2 separate regions of the Homo sapiens genome follow, and region 2 is linked to region 1. The links come from fine-mapping of genetic effects on gene expression. Tissue or cell type: whole blood. Region 1 holds a variant in brackets; the other region holds the start of a gene. All regions are shown on one strand. Distances are from middle to middle.

Evidence for each region. PIP is the estimated chance that this variant, and not a neighbour inherited with it, causes the effect.
Region 2: MILR1 starts here. The variant in region 1 is fine-mapped to the expression of MILR1 in whole blood (INTERVAL, PIP above 0.99).

What each region holds. Positions count from the first base shown.
Region 1 is chr17:64,483,337-64,491,336 of GRCh38, forward strand. POLG2 (DNA polymerase gamma 2, accessory subunit) reads right to left here. Exons shown (of 8, transcript NM_007215.4): 4 at 7,460-7,633; 5 at 2,392-2,532. It also overlaps a transcript of MILR1 not described here. Among named protein-coding and RNA genes, the nearest start is that of POLG2, 9.7 kb to the right of the region's middle. RefSeq lists a silencer at 6,646-6,820. The variant C/CA (reference allele first, on the strand shown) is at 4,731.
Region 2 is chr17:64,445,869-64,454,142 of GRCh38, forward strand. MILR1 (mast cell immunoglobulin like receptor 1) reads left to right here and starts at 3,247. Exons shown (of 10, transcript NM_001085423.2): 1 at 3,247-3,355; 2 at 3,446-3,487; 3 at 6,729-6,998. The coding sequence starts at 3,301. RefSeq lists a silencer at 3,110-3,159.

The sequences.
Region 1 (8,000 bases):
AAACTTCTCTCTACCAAAAAAATACAAAAAAATTAGCTAGGTATGGCGCATACCTGTAGTCCCAGCTACTCAGGCGGCTGAGGTGGGAAGAATGCTTGACCCGGGAGGTCAAGGCTGCAGTGAGCCAAGATCGTGCCACTGCACTCTAGTCTGGGCGACAGAGTGAGATCCTGTCTCAAAAAAAAAAAAAAACAAATTAACTTGAGACCCTCCCATTTTCTGACAACTCCCTCAGTCAAAATGCTTCTTTCAGCATCACTTTGGACCCTACCAGCCTGGGCCACGTGGCTTACCATTTCAACTTTCTCTCTCTTGTCAAAACCTACTGTTCTTCTCTTTTTATATATATTTTTTTGAATGAAAAAAATTTTTAAATGAAATTTGCTTTTTTTTTTTTTTTAAAGGGTCTGGCTCTGTTGCCCAGGCTAGAATGCTCCACTCACTGCCTCACTGCAACCCCCACCTCTGGGCTCAAGCCATCCTCCCACTTCAGCCTCCTAAGTAGCAGGGACTACAGGTGCACGCCACCACGCCCAGCTAGTTTTAGTATTTTTTTGTAGAGATGAAGTTTTGCCATGTTGCCCAGACAGACTGGTCTCGAACTCCTGACCTGAATGATCCACCCACCTTGGCTTCCCAAAGTGCTGGGATTATAGGCGTGAGCCATTCAGCCCAGCCTTCTCTTCTCATTCATTAGTCCATCCAACAAACATTTTAATGCCTCTGATACCAGGAACAGTTCCAGGTGCTAGGGGTAAAAATCTCCGTCTCTCGTGGCAGGGAGAAACAGACAATAAAAATAAGTAAATAATATATGTGAAGGTGGTAGGTGCTAAAAAAGGAAGAAGATGGAACATGCTGGCAAGAGGCAGGCTGGGGGAGGTTTTCAGCAACTTTAAGGTGGTCAGAAAAGGTTCTCTCCCTATGGTGACACTTGAGCAAACACTCGAAAGAAGGTGGGGGGACGAGACATGGATGATGAAGAAAGAGCACTCTAGGCAATGGGGAATACAAATGACAGGGCTCTGAGCTGGCAGCATCTCCAGCATGTTCTAGAAATAGCAAGGTCAGTGCTGCTGGAGCAGACTGAGTGAGGTGGAGAACAGCAGATCAAAAAGAGGGCTTCGGTTTTTCCTGAGTGAGATGAGAAGCTTTCCTGGAGTGTTCTGAGCAAAGGAGCAACACAACATGCACCTTTTAACAGGGCCACTCTATCAGGGGAGGAGGAGTGGCGGTGGCTTATAGCAGGGTGGTAGCAGTAGACAGGCTAGGAAGTGGTCAGACTCAGGATACGTTTTGAAGTTAGAGTCAAACAGGATTTGCTGATGGTTTGGAAGTGGAGTGTAAGAAAAAGAAAGGATTCCTTTTTTTGTTAGCTACAAACCATTTATAAACCCCATTCCCCAGAATAATTCTATAATCAGACTTCTCTATGGTTATAGCAGGCTAAATGAACACTGTATAATAAATCACTTAACTAAGAAGAGTGGTTTCCTACAAACTCATGGTTCCCAATCCCAGCTGAACACTCAACATTATTTGTTAAAACTTTTGATTTGGGGCAGCTTCCTTTTATGTTCAAAGGGTATATGACTATTCCCCACTCGTGCCATTTAAACCCCCACTCTTCCACATTTAAACTAATAGTGCCTCCTAACTCCCTGAGAAAATAGAGGGCATCAGTAAAATGTCCTTCAAAGACCAAAAAGCCCAGTAGCCTTTTTATATCTCACTATCCTTTTTCTTCTTCCCTGCTGTTTCAAATATCTCCTTTTCAAGATACATTCTTCTACTTGGGCTCTTGATCCCATCCTGACCCCTCCGGTTTCCTTCATCTTGCCCCATTAATCATTTCTTTTCTCTCCTATAACTTCAACTTCTCCTCTCGATTTTCTTTGACCCATAAACATGCTCCAAGTGCATGTTCATGCACTAAAATCAGCCTTTCCAGGCCCACATCTAGCTCCTCTGATCCAGGAACCAGCCATGTGGCACAAGACCAGAAGCCAGACACCTGGGGCAGAGAGGTCAATAGCACAGGTCTCCCTGATCCGGGTCTTTCTTCCTCCTATGTACCAATGCTTCAGCTTCTGATACAAATGGAAGCCCACAGTGGAAAGGTTCAGGGGCTAGGAGTCATAGAGATAGCTGTCTGTTCACAATTAAACAGAAATGCCTTTGGGATTACTTATTAGGGATGCCTTGTTCTATTCTGTGAGAACCTGATTCTTATTCCTGTGGCCAGATTCTAAAAAAACTGAAAAATACTTAGACTACATGCACTAAATTTATTATTTAGAGTTTATGTTAGAAACCGAGCACACTAACATTAAGAACAAACAAACCCATATTTTTAGTTTCCCAAGTCTATCTCTGAAATATCAACAGCACCTTTCTATGAAGATTTTTCTTTCTTGTAAAGGAGTTCTCTGTCAGCTGGAAAGAATCATAGAGGTAGGCCAGCATGCCTCGGTCTAGGTCCCCATTTACAGAGAGAACACAAGGAACCACATTTTTTCGTCCATCTCGGCCCTTCACAGAAAAACAGAAGAAAAATAATCATTTCACAGAACTTTTTTTGTTTGTTTGTTTTTGAGACGGAGTCTCACTCTGTCACCTGGCCAGGCTGGAGTGCAGTGGCATGATCTCAGCTCCCTGCAACCTCTGCCTCCCAGGTTCAAGTGATTCTCCTGCCTCAGCCTCCTGAGTACATATTTTAGACTTACACAATCAGAATACAAAAGTAAAGTTTCATTTTACAAAGCACCCACTCTGTACCAGGCCTGTGGTAGGCACTGGGCCCACGAAGACGATAAAGATGCATTCTCTGCTCTCACTGAGCTCAGTGTTTCATCAGCGAGGCCCAAATGTGAATTTTAAAACTATGGTGCTTGGTTGGGCTCTATCCCAGAGATTCTGAACGAACTCAACTGGAGAGGGACTTAGGCATCAATTTTTTCAATAGCCCTACAGACTATTTCTTTAATGCTTCCGAGCTCAGAGTTAGTATTCAGAAAGGTAACACTTTTTTTTTTTTTAATACAGACAGAGTCTCGCTCTGTCACCCAGGCTGGAGTGCAATGGCATGATCTCACCTCATTGCCAACCTCTGCCACCCGGGTTCAAGTGATTCTCTTGCCTCAGTCTCCTGAGTAGCTAGGACTACAGGCACACACCACCATGTCTGGCTAATTTTTTTCTATTTTTAGTAGGGACGGGGTTTCACCATGTTGGCCAGGTTGTTCTCAAACTCCTCACCTCAGGTGATCAGCCCACCTCAGCCTCCCAAAGTGCTGGGATTACAGGCGTGAGCCACTGCGCCCTACCTCGAAAGGTAACACTTTTAAGTAAAAATTGTTTGCTGATTATTCAAAAGAGGCCTTAGGGAAAAAAATGGTGTGCTTTAGGGAAAGGGGTTTGGAGTATAATTTTCTGAAACGTAAAGTTATTTTCATAAAAAAGAAATCTTTCAAAAACTTACTTTTTGCATTAAAGCCATAATTATGAAAACAAACTACACATAGTACATGATATGAATTAAGTATTGATAAACAGACTTACTTCTTCTCTAAACTGAAGAGGAATCATTTCAAACTTCTTAAAAATTTCAATCCTAGAAATTTCTTAAGTTTTGGATAAAAACAGTTCCACTTTCATCTTTCTTTTTTTGTAAATCATTGTTCACCTGGATATTCATGTAATTTTTAAAAATACTTAAATAACCACCTTTAGCTAGAGTCACAGAACAAAAAAAAAAGAGAGAAAACCCCACAAATTTAAATCCTCAGCTTCTGTTAATTATTCATGATCAACCACAGTCTTCATTAATACATATATGTACTGACATTTTAAACCTATTTGAATTGCATATGATACTTTAAAGATTCACAAGAATTTGCCCTCAAAGGCAGTAAACTTTCTGATACCTGGGACTCTATTCTACCAGTTGTATTTCACACAGTTATCGTCGAACTGATAGTTAATAAGATAAACTGGGCTGGGAGCAGTGGCTCATGCCTGTAATCCCAGCACATCGGGAGGCCATGGTGGACGAATCACTTGAGTTCAGGAGTTCGAGACCAGCCTGGCCAACATGGTAAAACCCCACCTCTACTAAAAAGACAAAAATTAGCTGGGCATGGTGGTGCATGCTTGTAATCCCAGCTACTCAGCAGGCTGAGGCATGAGAATCACTTGAACCCAGGAGGTGGAGGCTGCAGTGAGCAGACATTGTGCCACTATACTCCAGCCTGGGTGACAGAGTGAGACACCATCTCAAAAAAAAAAAAAAAAAAAAAAAGACAAACTCAAGTACTGAAAGATTCTGTGGTGCGCTTTGAATCAAACAAAATCTAAATCTGAATCTTTATGAAGAATGCTTTAGGCTGGGCACAGTGACTCACTCCTGTAATCCTAGCACTTTGGGAGGCCAGGGCAGGAGGATCACTTGAGCCCAGGAGTTTGAGACTAGCCTGGGCAACATGGCAAGATCCCATCCCTATTTAAAACAAACAAAAAAGATTGTTTATTGTTTTCTAATTTTTTGAAAATTGGATATCCAACAATGTCAGGATATCTGGTGGCAACTCTTCCAACAATATCTGATTTCTCACACTATCCAGAATAAATTCTTTTCTATCCTAACTGTTCTTCAGCCTTTATTGGTCTGCTTCACTGTTCTCTAAAAAATATATTTGGACATTAACCATAAAATCAACTAAAAACAGATA[C/CA]AAAATGGCCTAAGAGGCTGGGTGCAGTGGTTTACGCCTATAATCCCAGCACTTTGGGAGGCTAAGGCAGGAGGATTGCTTGAGCCCAGGAGTTCAAGACCAGCCTGAGCAACACAGCGAGACCCCATCTCTATTAAATAATTTTAAAAAAAGAAAGAAATGGCCTCAGAAACATTTCAAGAAAGCATACTAAATGACAGAAATTCTACTTAATATTTTATAACATGTTCAACTAATGATAAATAATTTTGTGAACTCTGGAAACAGAAAAGGAACAATGTCATGGAAGAGAAAAATTTCTGCAATAGGAAAACTCTTCATTAGTGAAAATGATACCAATAAAAGAACAAAATAATCTGGGCATGGTAGTTCACACCTGTAATCTTAGCACTCAGAAAGGCAGAGGCAGGAGAACAGCTTGAGCCCAGGAATTCAAGACCAGACTGGGCAACATAGCGAGACCCCATTCTTCATACAAAAGAAAAAAAAGAACAAAATAAGACACTAATAGCCACAATACAAAAATCATCTTTAAATCCCTAGTCACAAGGTTGAGCTGTTCGTTAACTATGATAATAACCAATAAGTTTCATTTGAGAGCTGAGTACCCCAAAATGAAGTGTGATGGTGGTGGAGTTAAAGGAAAATGTTCACCAGTTAATAAGCCTTCTAGTTTTTCATTAGTTATTCATATTTAAAAATTCCAGCCTGGTCAATATGGTGAAACCCTGTCTCTACTAAAAATACAAAAATTAACCGGGCGTGGTGGCGCACACCTATAGTCCTAGCTACTCAGGAGGCTGAGGCAGAAGAACTGCTTGAACCTGGGAATCGCGACACTGCACTCCAGCCTGGGCAACAGAGTGAGATGCTGTCTCAAAAAATAAAAAAATAAAAATTAATCTACTTTCTACTCATTATATATAAACTCCTATGTTTTTGCTATATATTTTTTCTTTTTCTTTTTTTTTTTTTTTGAGACATGGTCTCATCCTGTTGCACAGGCTGGAGTGCAGCAGCACAGTCTTGGCTCACTGATGATCCTGGAACAATATATTGCTACAAAAGGTAAGGAAGTGCTCGTCAAGACAATGATGGAAATATGTCAAAAGGACACTGGCCAAGTCTAGGACAATTTGACCATCAAAATAAATAATGACAGTAACACACTGTAACCCCCTGAGAAAGTAATCTGTGAAATACCAATTTAAAAAAAAAATGGAGGAGAAGGAAAAGCTCTACAGTATATTGCTGACCAGTAAATCTAGAAGGAATGATGGAATTTGTTTTTTTTTAAAAAAAAAAAAAAGGGAAGGGGAAAAAAACACCATTGGCAAACCTCATCGTAGTAACTGATTTGAGCAAGAATCATCAAGGGATGCTGCAACCAGTAAGGCAAAATTTGGTGACATGGCCAAACATGGTGACTCATTCTTATAATCCAAGCATTTTGGGAGGCTGAGGCAGGGGGATTGTTTCATCCCAGGAGTTCGAGACCAGCCCGGGCAACAAAGCTAGACCCCGTCTCTACAAATATTAAACCATCAGTCGGGCATGGTGATACATGCTTGTAGTCCTAGCTACTTGGGAGGCTGAGGCAGGATTGCTTGAGCTCAAGAGTTTGAGGTTGCAGTGAGCTATCACCATACCACTGTGTTTCAGCCTGAGTGATAGAGTGAGATCCTGTCTCAAATAAAGAAAAAAAAAAATCACCATTTGGCAAACCTCACATTAGTAACTGATCTGGGCAAGAATCATCAATGGATGCTGCAACCAGTAAGGCAAAATTTGGTGACAAAGAAATTGTCTGCATCATCTTAAAGTATCTGCCCACAACACTTATTAATTACTAGTTAATTTTTTTGTTTTTTTTTTTTGAGACAGAGTCTCGTTCTGTCGCCAGGCTGCAGTGCAGTGGCACGATCTTGGCTCATCGCAACCTCCACCTCCCGGGTTCAAGCGATTCTCCTGCCTCAGCCTCCCAAGTAGCTGAGACTATAAGGGCAAGCCACCACATCCAGCTAATTTTTGTATTTTTAGTAGAGATGGGGTTTCACCACATTGGCCAGGATGGTCTCAATCTCTTGACCTCATGATCCTCCCACTTCGGCCTCACAAAGTGCTGGGATTACAGGCGTGAGCCACTGCGCCTGGCCGTTAATTAATAAATACAAACTATTTATTAGCTTTACACTGGAGAAATCTAGTAGAAACCATCTTAACTAAATGATAAAAGTTAACATCACCAGTAACACTCCTCATATGACACACTGAGAAGAGAGCTTCTCAGTACTACCACTTCTGTAGTACTCCCGACAAAAATACATAAATCACGTGGAAACAGCAGACAGATCCCAGCCAAGGCATATTCTACAGATTAACTAGACTGTACTCTTCAAAAATGTCAAGGTCACGCAAGACAAGAGGAATTGTTCATTTGAAGGAGTGTAAAGGCATATGACAACTACATGAAAGACAAGATCTTGGACCTATAAATGCCATTATTGAGATAATCAGTTCAATTTGTAGGGCTCTGTGGCAATAGTGGATTACTGTTAATTTCCTGATTTTGATGACTGGATTGTAGTTATGTAGGTGAGTGTCTCTGCATCTGAAAAATACACAATGAAGTGTTAAGACACCACGTTTGCACCTTATTCTCAAATGGTTCGGAAATGATTATAGAGAATCTGGGTAAAAAATACATAGGAGCTCCAGGTAAAACATACATGTAATTTAGACACATTGCCAGGATACATGTGTAAAAGTTCGTGATCTCCTAGGTTCCACAGGGTTTCTATTAACTCCTTTCCCCAGGGAAAATTGTAGTAAAGTTTGTTTCCTTTCCGGCCTTCTTCATCCTGACAGTCACTGCTGCTGAAGTTAGATGGACTCATGGCAAACTGGAAAAGAAAATTTAAGTTTGTCTTAACATATTTAAATAAACACTAATTTAACTCCCATAATTATCTGTAAGAATTTAAATTGTCCGATACTTTTTATTCAGCAAATGTGCGAAACTAGTCAAGTCCCGAATACAAATTTTAAAGTTTATTCTAATTTACATTTTTTTTTGAGATGTGTCTCATTCTGTTGCCCAGGTTAGAGTGCAGTGGCTAGTCACAGGTACAATCATAGCTCACTGCTGCCTCCTACTGCTGGCCTCAAGCAATCCTCCTGCCTCAGGATTCAGAGTAGCTGGGACCACAGGTTGCTGAAATTTAATTTTTAAAAAGTGAAAATACTGGCCAGGCACAGTGGCTCACGCCT
Region 2 (8,274 bases), 37 kb before region 1:
TATGGGTGCAGCAAACCAACATGGCACATGTATACCTATGTATCAAACCTGCACATTGTGCACATGTACCCTAGAACTTAAAGTATAATAATAAAAAAAATAAAAATAACATTCTACTCTCCAGATATAGCTATTGTTAACATTTTGAGAAAATATCCTTCCAGATAGTTTTTCTCTTTCTTTCTTTCTTCCTTTCCTTTCTTTTCCTTTTTTAATTTAGAGACAAAGTCTCATTATGAGTCTCCCAAAGTGCTGAGAATACAGGCATGAGCCACTGTGCCCGGCCTCCAGATAGTTTTTCTATGTATACAAATTATGCACTTTCTTATTTAGAAAAATGATTTATGTTATTACAACTGTTAATAATACCTTTTCTCTTTTCTTAAGTATATTGTGATTCTCTTACCACATCATGAAATGTTCTTCTACATCACCATTAAAAATTCTTTTTTTTTTTTTTTTGAGACAGTGTCTTTCAAAAGTGCAGTTCTGAATCAAGGCAGCCTTGAAGTCTTGTTATTATGGCAAGCCCTCCAGTGCCAGGAGAACTGAGGTAGGAGTAAACTCAGATCAGCCTTTGAAATAGAATGTGTGAGGCCAGGTGCAGTGGCTCATGCCTGTAGTCTCAGCACTTTGGGAGACTGAGGTGGGTAGATCACTTGAGATCAGGAATTTGAGACCAGCCTGGTCAACATGGCGAAACCTCATCTCTAGTAAAAATTAAAAAAATTAGCTGGGCGTGGTGGCAAGTGCCTGTAATCCCAGCTACTTGGGAACCTGGGAACTGTGGAGGTTGCAGTGGCCCGAGATGGCGCCACTGCAGCTATTACTCCAGTTTGAAAATACTAGAAGTTGCCAATATATATTTTTTCCATTGCCAGACTTGTCTGCAATTTGTACTGGATCTGATAGAGAAACCATTTCCATGGGTCTATATGAAAATGTGGAGCCGGGGGTAGTGGCTCACGCCTGTAATCCCACAACTTCGGGAGGCCGAGGCAGGCAGATCACCTGAGGTCAGGAGTTCGAGACCAGCCTGGCCAATGGGGTGAAATCCCGTCTCTACTAAAAATACACAATTTAGCCAGGTGTGGTGGCACGTACCTGTAATCCCAGTTACTTGGGAGGGTGAGGCAGGAGAATCCCTTGAACCCAGGAGGTGGAGGTTTCAGTGAGCCGAGATAGCGCCACTGCACTCCAGCCTGGGCAACAGAGCGAGACTCCATCTCAAAAAAAAAAAAAAAAAAAGAGAGAGAAAGAAAATGTGGGTGCGGGGAATGATTCTATGGTTGTCTGTTCTTTTCCAGCTGGCCAGCAGTGGTAGCCAAAAAGTGACAGGATGCTGATGAAAAACATTGCAGACGTGAAGAAAAGAAAAAGTTGATGGAATTTTGCACATGTATCTGACAGTTCACCCATCCAAACTTTTATAAAGTGCTGTAAAGTTGTTGTAGTAAGGGTGGGGCATGGTGGTTCATGCTTGTAATCCTAGCACTTTTGGAGGCCACACGCAGGAGAATCGCTTGAGCCCAGGAGTTCAAAACCAGCCTGGGCAATATAGTGAGACTTCATCTCTATAAAAAAGTTAAAAACCTAGTAGTGTATGGTGGTTTGTGCCTGTGGTCCCAGCTACTAGAGAGGCTGAGGTGGAAAGATAGTTTGATTCTGGTAAGTGGAGATTGCAGTGAGCCAAGATGGTGCCACTGTGCTCTAGCTTGGGAGACAGAGCAAGATTCAGTATCAAACCTCCTAGCTAGAGGATGCTAGCTAGGTGACGCTGAGTCAATAAGGAAGGATTTGGTTACATCTTGGGACCTAAGGTACAGAGATGAATGTCCCAGCTCAAGGCTGCCCCAGCCATTCAACTCCTTGCTTCCTCTCTTGGTGGACCTGTCAATTCTTGCAAGTGTCAACCAGCTGTCTTGCCCACCTAGCCCTATAGTCATACCTTTCTATCCTTTTGGTGATCTCCACTCCATCAAGAAGTGGCTCTGCACATTCTATTTCAACTGACTTTTTTTTTTTTTTTTTGAGACAGAGTTTTGCTCTATCACCCAGGCTGGAGTGCAGTGGTGCAATCTTGGCTCACTGCAACCTCCACCTCCCGGGTTCAAACGATTCTTCTGCCTCAGCCCCTCAAGTAGCTGGAATTATAGGCACGCATCACCACACCCAGTTAAGTTTTTTGTATTTTTACTAGTGATGGGATTTCGCTGTGTTGGCCAGGCTGGTGTCAAACTCCTGACCTCGGGTGATCCGCCTGCCTCAGCCTTCCGAAGTGCTAGGATTACAGGCATGAGCCACCGCACCCAGCCTGCACGTTCTATTTCAAAGGCTGATCTAAGGTAACTCCTACTTCAGATCTCCTGGCACTGGAGGGCTTGCCGTAATATCAAGTCCCCAAGGCTCCCTTGATTCAGAAATCACTGAGGCAGCAGCACCTTGTACAGATATTTCTCAGCCTTCACTGTGCGTAAGAATTGCTCAGGGCCCTTGTTTAAAAAAAAAAAAATCAGCGTCCTGGACTTGAAACCCAGTAAGTCTGGAGTGGGGTCTAGGAATCAACGTTTAACAAAAGCAGGCATTTTTGGCCAGGCACAGTAGCTCACACCTGTAATCCCAGCACTTTGGGAGGCTGAGGCGGGAGGATCACTTGAGCTCAGGAGTTTAACACCAGCCTGGGCAACTAGACCCCTGTCTTTACAAATAAAAATAATTAGCCAGTCCTGATGGTGCACACCTGTGGTCCCAGCTACTCAGGAGCCTGAGGTGGGACGAGCACTTGAGCCCAGGAGTTTGAGGCTGCAATGAGCTATGATCACAGCACTCCACTCCAACCTGGGTGACAGAGTGAGGCCAGTCTCAAAAAAAAAAAGCAGGCATTTTTGATACAATATTTGTATGTATCTGCTTAAGACAGTCGGTTTGCTTCCAAAGACTAAATCAAACTTCCACCAAACTCCTTTTGGCATAGACTGAGTCCAGAGCAAGGAGATCAGATGGGTTTACATAGACAATGTAACAGTCAGATTTACCTCTTCTCTTTCCCAGCCAGCATGGGACGATGTGGGGGTGTGGGGGGGTGGGGGGGGCGGGGGAGTGGCAATCTACCAAATATCTCTCTTCTTACAGGAACTCACAGAGGAAGACAGATTGGTCGAACAAACCAGTATTATGCAAACCTCATCCAAACCCTCTGATTTCCTTAACTTGGCTAAGAAAAAGAGGAAGTTCTCCGAGTTACTCACCACTGTGGTTCTACTATGCCTTCTGACCCCGTCTTGGACTTCAACTGGGAGAATGTGGAGCCATTTGAACAGGCTCCTCTTCTGGAGCATATTTTCTTCTGTCACTTGTAAGCCCCCCTTATCATTCTGAGGCTCGAACCTCCAAGCCAACGTGTCATGTGGAAAGTGAGCTTTATCGTGTTCCTTTTCTGTTTCAGGTAGAAAAGCTGTATTGGATTGTGAGGCAATGAAAACAAATGGTAAGTTTCATTTACTTCTTTCTTATTGAAACCATTTTCACTGAAGTGGTGAGACAGTCTGATTGCAACATAAGCGTCCATTCAAAAGTGTTTCTGAGCTTTTATGAACAACCAAAGAACAGTCTTTTCAATTATCTATCATTTAAAATAAAATGATTTTAGGGAGGGGATTGCAGCATTTTTTTCTGAGACTCAGTGAGAAAAATAATGAAATTTGTTTTCACAATGAAAGTTTTCTAACTTTCCTTGTTATTGTTGTTTTATGGTTGTTGTGTTTTAACTAGAAAGCCAACACACAGGCTGGGTGTGGTGCCTCCGGCCTGTAATCGCAGCACTTTGGAAGGCTAATGGGGTAGGATTGCTTGAGCTCAGGAGTTTGAGACCAGCCTGAACAACATAGTGATACCTCGTTTCTTAAAAAAATAAAACAAAATAAAAAAACCCACAGAATTATTGTGAAATAATTCAAGCAACACTAGAAATATACATTGGGAAGTGGTCTAACCTCTGGTTCTACTAGTTACTAGCCAGCAGCCTGAGCTCATGACATACCCAGTTTGACCTTAATTTCTTTCTTTCTTTCTTTCTTTCTTTTTTTTTTTGAGATGGAGTCTCAGTCTGTCGCCCAGGCTGGAGTCAGTGGTGCAATCTCGGCTCACTGCAACCTCTGCCTCCCAGGTTCAAGTGATTCTCCTGCCTCAGCCTCCCGAGTAGCTGGGACTACAGGCGTGTGCCACCAAGCCTGGCTAATGTTTTGTATTTTTTGTAGAGACGGGGTTTCACATCGTTAGCCAGGATGGTCTCGATCTCCTGACCTCGTGATCCGCCCACCTTGGCCTCCCAAAGTGCTGGGATTACAGGCGTGAGACACTGTAATTTATTTCATCTGTGAAGTGGGCTAATAAAAGCACCTACCTGGTAGGCTAGTGTGCAGATCAAATGAGACAATCCCTGCTCCTCGTCACAGTGCCAGGCATATGGTAAACCATCCGTAAGTGATAGCCAAGGTGGTGGTTGTTACTGTATAAAATGTAAAAGTTCTGTTACAATCCTCCTCCAATTCTTCTCCCCTTCCTATCCAGAAGCAGCCGTTATCAACAGTCACTTTATATTCGTTATCTTTTTTTGTTTGTTTGTTTTTGAGACAGAGTTTCACTCTTGTTGCCCAGGCTGGAGTACAGTGGCACAATCTCGGCTCACTGCAACCTCCGCCTCCTGGGTTCAAGGGATCCTCCTGCCTCAGCCTCCCGAGTAGCTGGGATTACAGGCACGTGCCACCATGCCTGGGTAATTTTTGTATTGTTTTTTGGTAGAGACGGGGTGTCATCATGTTGGCCAGGCTGTTCTTGAACTCTTGACCTCGTGATCCTCCTGCCTCTGCCTCCCAAAGTGCTGGGGTTACAGGCATGAGCTACCACACCAGCCTTAGCTCCTCTTTTTCAACAGCTGCATGGTATTTTAAGACTCAGCCATGATTCGTTTAACCATCCTTATTTATTGCCCTGCTTTTTGGGGGCAATATAAACAATGCTACAATAAACATCCTTGTACACAACGTCCTTTGTGGATGCATGAGAGCTTGAAAGCATCTCTGTAGAATGAAATTCTAGAATTGAAATTGCAAGGTCATAGGGCATACACATTTAAATTGTTACAGACCCTGCTAAGTTGCCCTCCCAACAAGGCTGATCGTATCCTATCAGTCACCAACGGTGGGTGAGTTTCCCCACCCACTCCCCAGTGGTGGATATAATCACTTTTACTTTTAAATTTTATTTAGGGTTTTTTTTTTTCTTTCTTTCTTTGAGACAGAGTCTCTGCTCTGTCGCCCAGGCTGGAGTGCAGTGGTGCGATCTTAGCTTTCCGCAGCCTCGACCTTCCAAGCTCAATTGATCCTCCCACCTCAGCCTCCTGAGTAGTGCCATACAGGTACGCACCATCATGCCCAGCTAATTTTTGTATTTTTAGTAGAGACAGGGTTTCACCATTTGCCCAGGCTGGTCTCGAACTCCTGGACTCAAGAGATCTGCCTGCCTCAGCCTCCCAAATTGCTGGGATTACAGGCATGAGCCACCATGCCTGGCCAATCATTTTTAAACTTTGTACCAATCTGATGAGTGAAAAATGATATCTCAGTGTTGTTTTAATTTGCAGTTGCCTCATTACTTGTGAAGTTGAGCATCTTTTTCATGTTTACTGGCCACAAAAGCTCTAGCATTCCTAGATAAAAAAAACTTAGGGATGGCTATTTGGTTGGAAAGGTAGTTTAGGTCTTGTCTTAAAGTTGAGTTTATATGGCGGGGCACAGTGACTCACACCTGTAATCCCGGCACTTTGGGAGGCTGAAGCAGGCAGTCACTTGAGGTCAGGAGTTCAAGACGAGCCTGGACAACATGGTGAAACCCTGTCTCTACCAAAACTACAAAAATTAGCTGGGCATGGTGGTGTGTGCCTATAGTTCAGCTACTCAGGAGGCTGAGGCAGGAGGATCAGTTGAGCCTGGAAGGTGGAGGCTGTGGTGAGTCAAGATGGTGCCACTGCGCTCCAGCCTGGGCAACAGAGTGAGACTCTGTCTCAAAAAAAAAAAAAAGTTGAGCTTATATAAGACTGAGAAAATGTTAATTGTCCAGATCAAAGAGTGGGAGGAGAGTTTACTGCATTTTTAAAAGCATTTTTGAAGAGTCTAAATCTGTCTTCCACCCAAGCCATCCATTGGTCCCAGCTATGTTTTTTTTTTTTTTTGTTCTGTTTTGTTTTTTAAAAATTAGAGACGAGGTCTCACTTGTTGCCCAGGCTGTTCTCGAACTCCTGACCTCAAGTGACCCTCCCACCACAGCCTCCCAAAGTGCTAGGATTATAGGCGTCAACCACCACACCCAACTTCAAGAACTTTTTATTTATTATTATTTTTATTTTTTGAGGTAGTCTCACTCTGTCACCCAGCCTGGAGTGCAGTGGCATGATCTTGGCTCACTGCAACCTCCGCCTCCCTAGTTCAAGCAATTCTCCTGCCTCAGCCTCCTGAGTAGCTGGGATTACAGGTGCCCACCACCATGCCAGCTAATTTTTGTATTTTTAGTAGAGACAGGGTTTTGCCATGTTGCCCAGACTGGTATCAAACTCATGGCCTCAAGTGATCCACCTGCCTCGGCCGCCCAAAGTGCTGGGATTACAGGCGTGAACCACCTTGCCCGGCCAGGATCTTAAGAAGGACTTTTTCTTGTGTCATTTTGTTTTTCAGAATTCCCTTCTCCATGTTTGGACTCAAAGACTAAGGTGGTTATGAAGGGTCAAAATGTATCTATGTTTTGTTCCCATAAGAACAAATCACTGCAGATCACCTATTCATTGTTTCGACGTAAGACACACCTGGGAACCCAGGATGGAAAAGGTGAACCTGCGATTTTTAACCTAAGCATCACAGAAGCCCATGAATCAGGCCCCTACAAATGCAAAGCCCAAGTTACCAGCTGTTCAAAATACAGTCGTGACTTCAGCTTCACGATTGTCGGTAAGTAGAGTGCCTGTTCCTTGGAGCCCCTATAATTTATAGGGTGCTTTCTGGTTCTATGAGGGGCTCTCCATGATCCTTGTGAACACTTAAGAACCTGGAAAGTATGTTACTGCGAGCTTTATTCTTTTTTTATTTTTTATTTATTTTTAGACCTGGTCAACAGGAAGTATCTTTTAATTTTTTAATTTTTGAGATCTCTATTCTTTTTTTTTTTTTTGAAACAGAGTCTCACTCAGTTGCCCAGGCTGGAGTACAGTGGTGAAATCATGGTCCACTGCAAACTCCACCTCCTGGGTTCAAGGCATTCTCCTGCCTCAGCCTCCCAAGTAGCTGGGATTACAGGCACCCATCACCACGCCTGGCTAATTTTTGTATTTTTACTTGAGACGAGGTTTCACCATGTTGGTCAGGCTGGTCTCGAACTCCTGACCTCAGGTGATCCGCCTGCCTCAGCCTCCCAAAATGCTGGGATTACAGATGTAAGCCACCATGCCCAGTGAGTTCTCTATTCTTAATCATTCCGTTTCACCTTCTCTTTCAAAGACTTTCGACCATGTCAGATAATAGTCTTATATCTTTAGGCAAAAGTCTTATATCTCAACAATAATTGTGGAGGTCTTTTCTAGAAACTTTATTCTGTGATTCCCATTGTGTGGGCAAAAATCGCTTTTTTTTTTTTTTTTTTTTTCTGAAGCCTTGGGCCCCTTGGAGAGGGTCTTCAAAGCCTCACGCCTTTCCCACCGCTTCCTTAGTGTCAGGGGCCCCATCCGCTAGCACTCTTCCTGCCTAGCCACATCTCACTACTTCTGTGTTTTTCTGTCCCATTTTCCTACCCCAAGCCTGTTACTGCCTAGCATTAAGGGCCTCATCCGTGAAGGTGACCTTGATAATGGACTCCTGTGGGAGGAGAGAAGGCTTCTAGGTAACACATGTATGTTATACCTGGAGTCTTCAAAGCGTAGGGACCCTGACTTCCTGATAACTCTTGAGTGGTCCTCTATGTCTATGCTATCCAGTACGGTACTGTTTAAACTTATTTGTTTATTTTGTTTTATTTTATTTCTTTTTTTCTTTTTTTGAGATGGAGTCTCGCCCTGTCACCCAGGCTGGAGTGCAGTGGTGCGATCTCAGCTCACTTCAACCTCCGCCTTTCGAGTTCAAGCAATTCTCCCACCTCAGCCTCCCGAGTAGCTAGGATTACAGGCATGCACCACCATGCCCAGCTAATTTTTGTATTTTTAATAGAGATGGGGTTTCACCATGTTGACCAGGC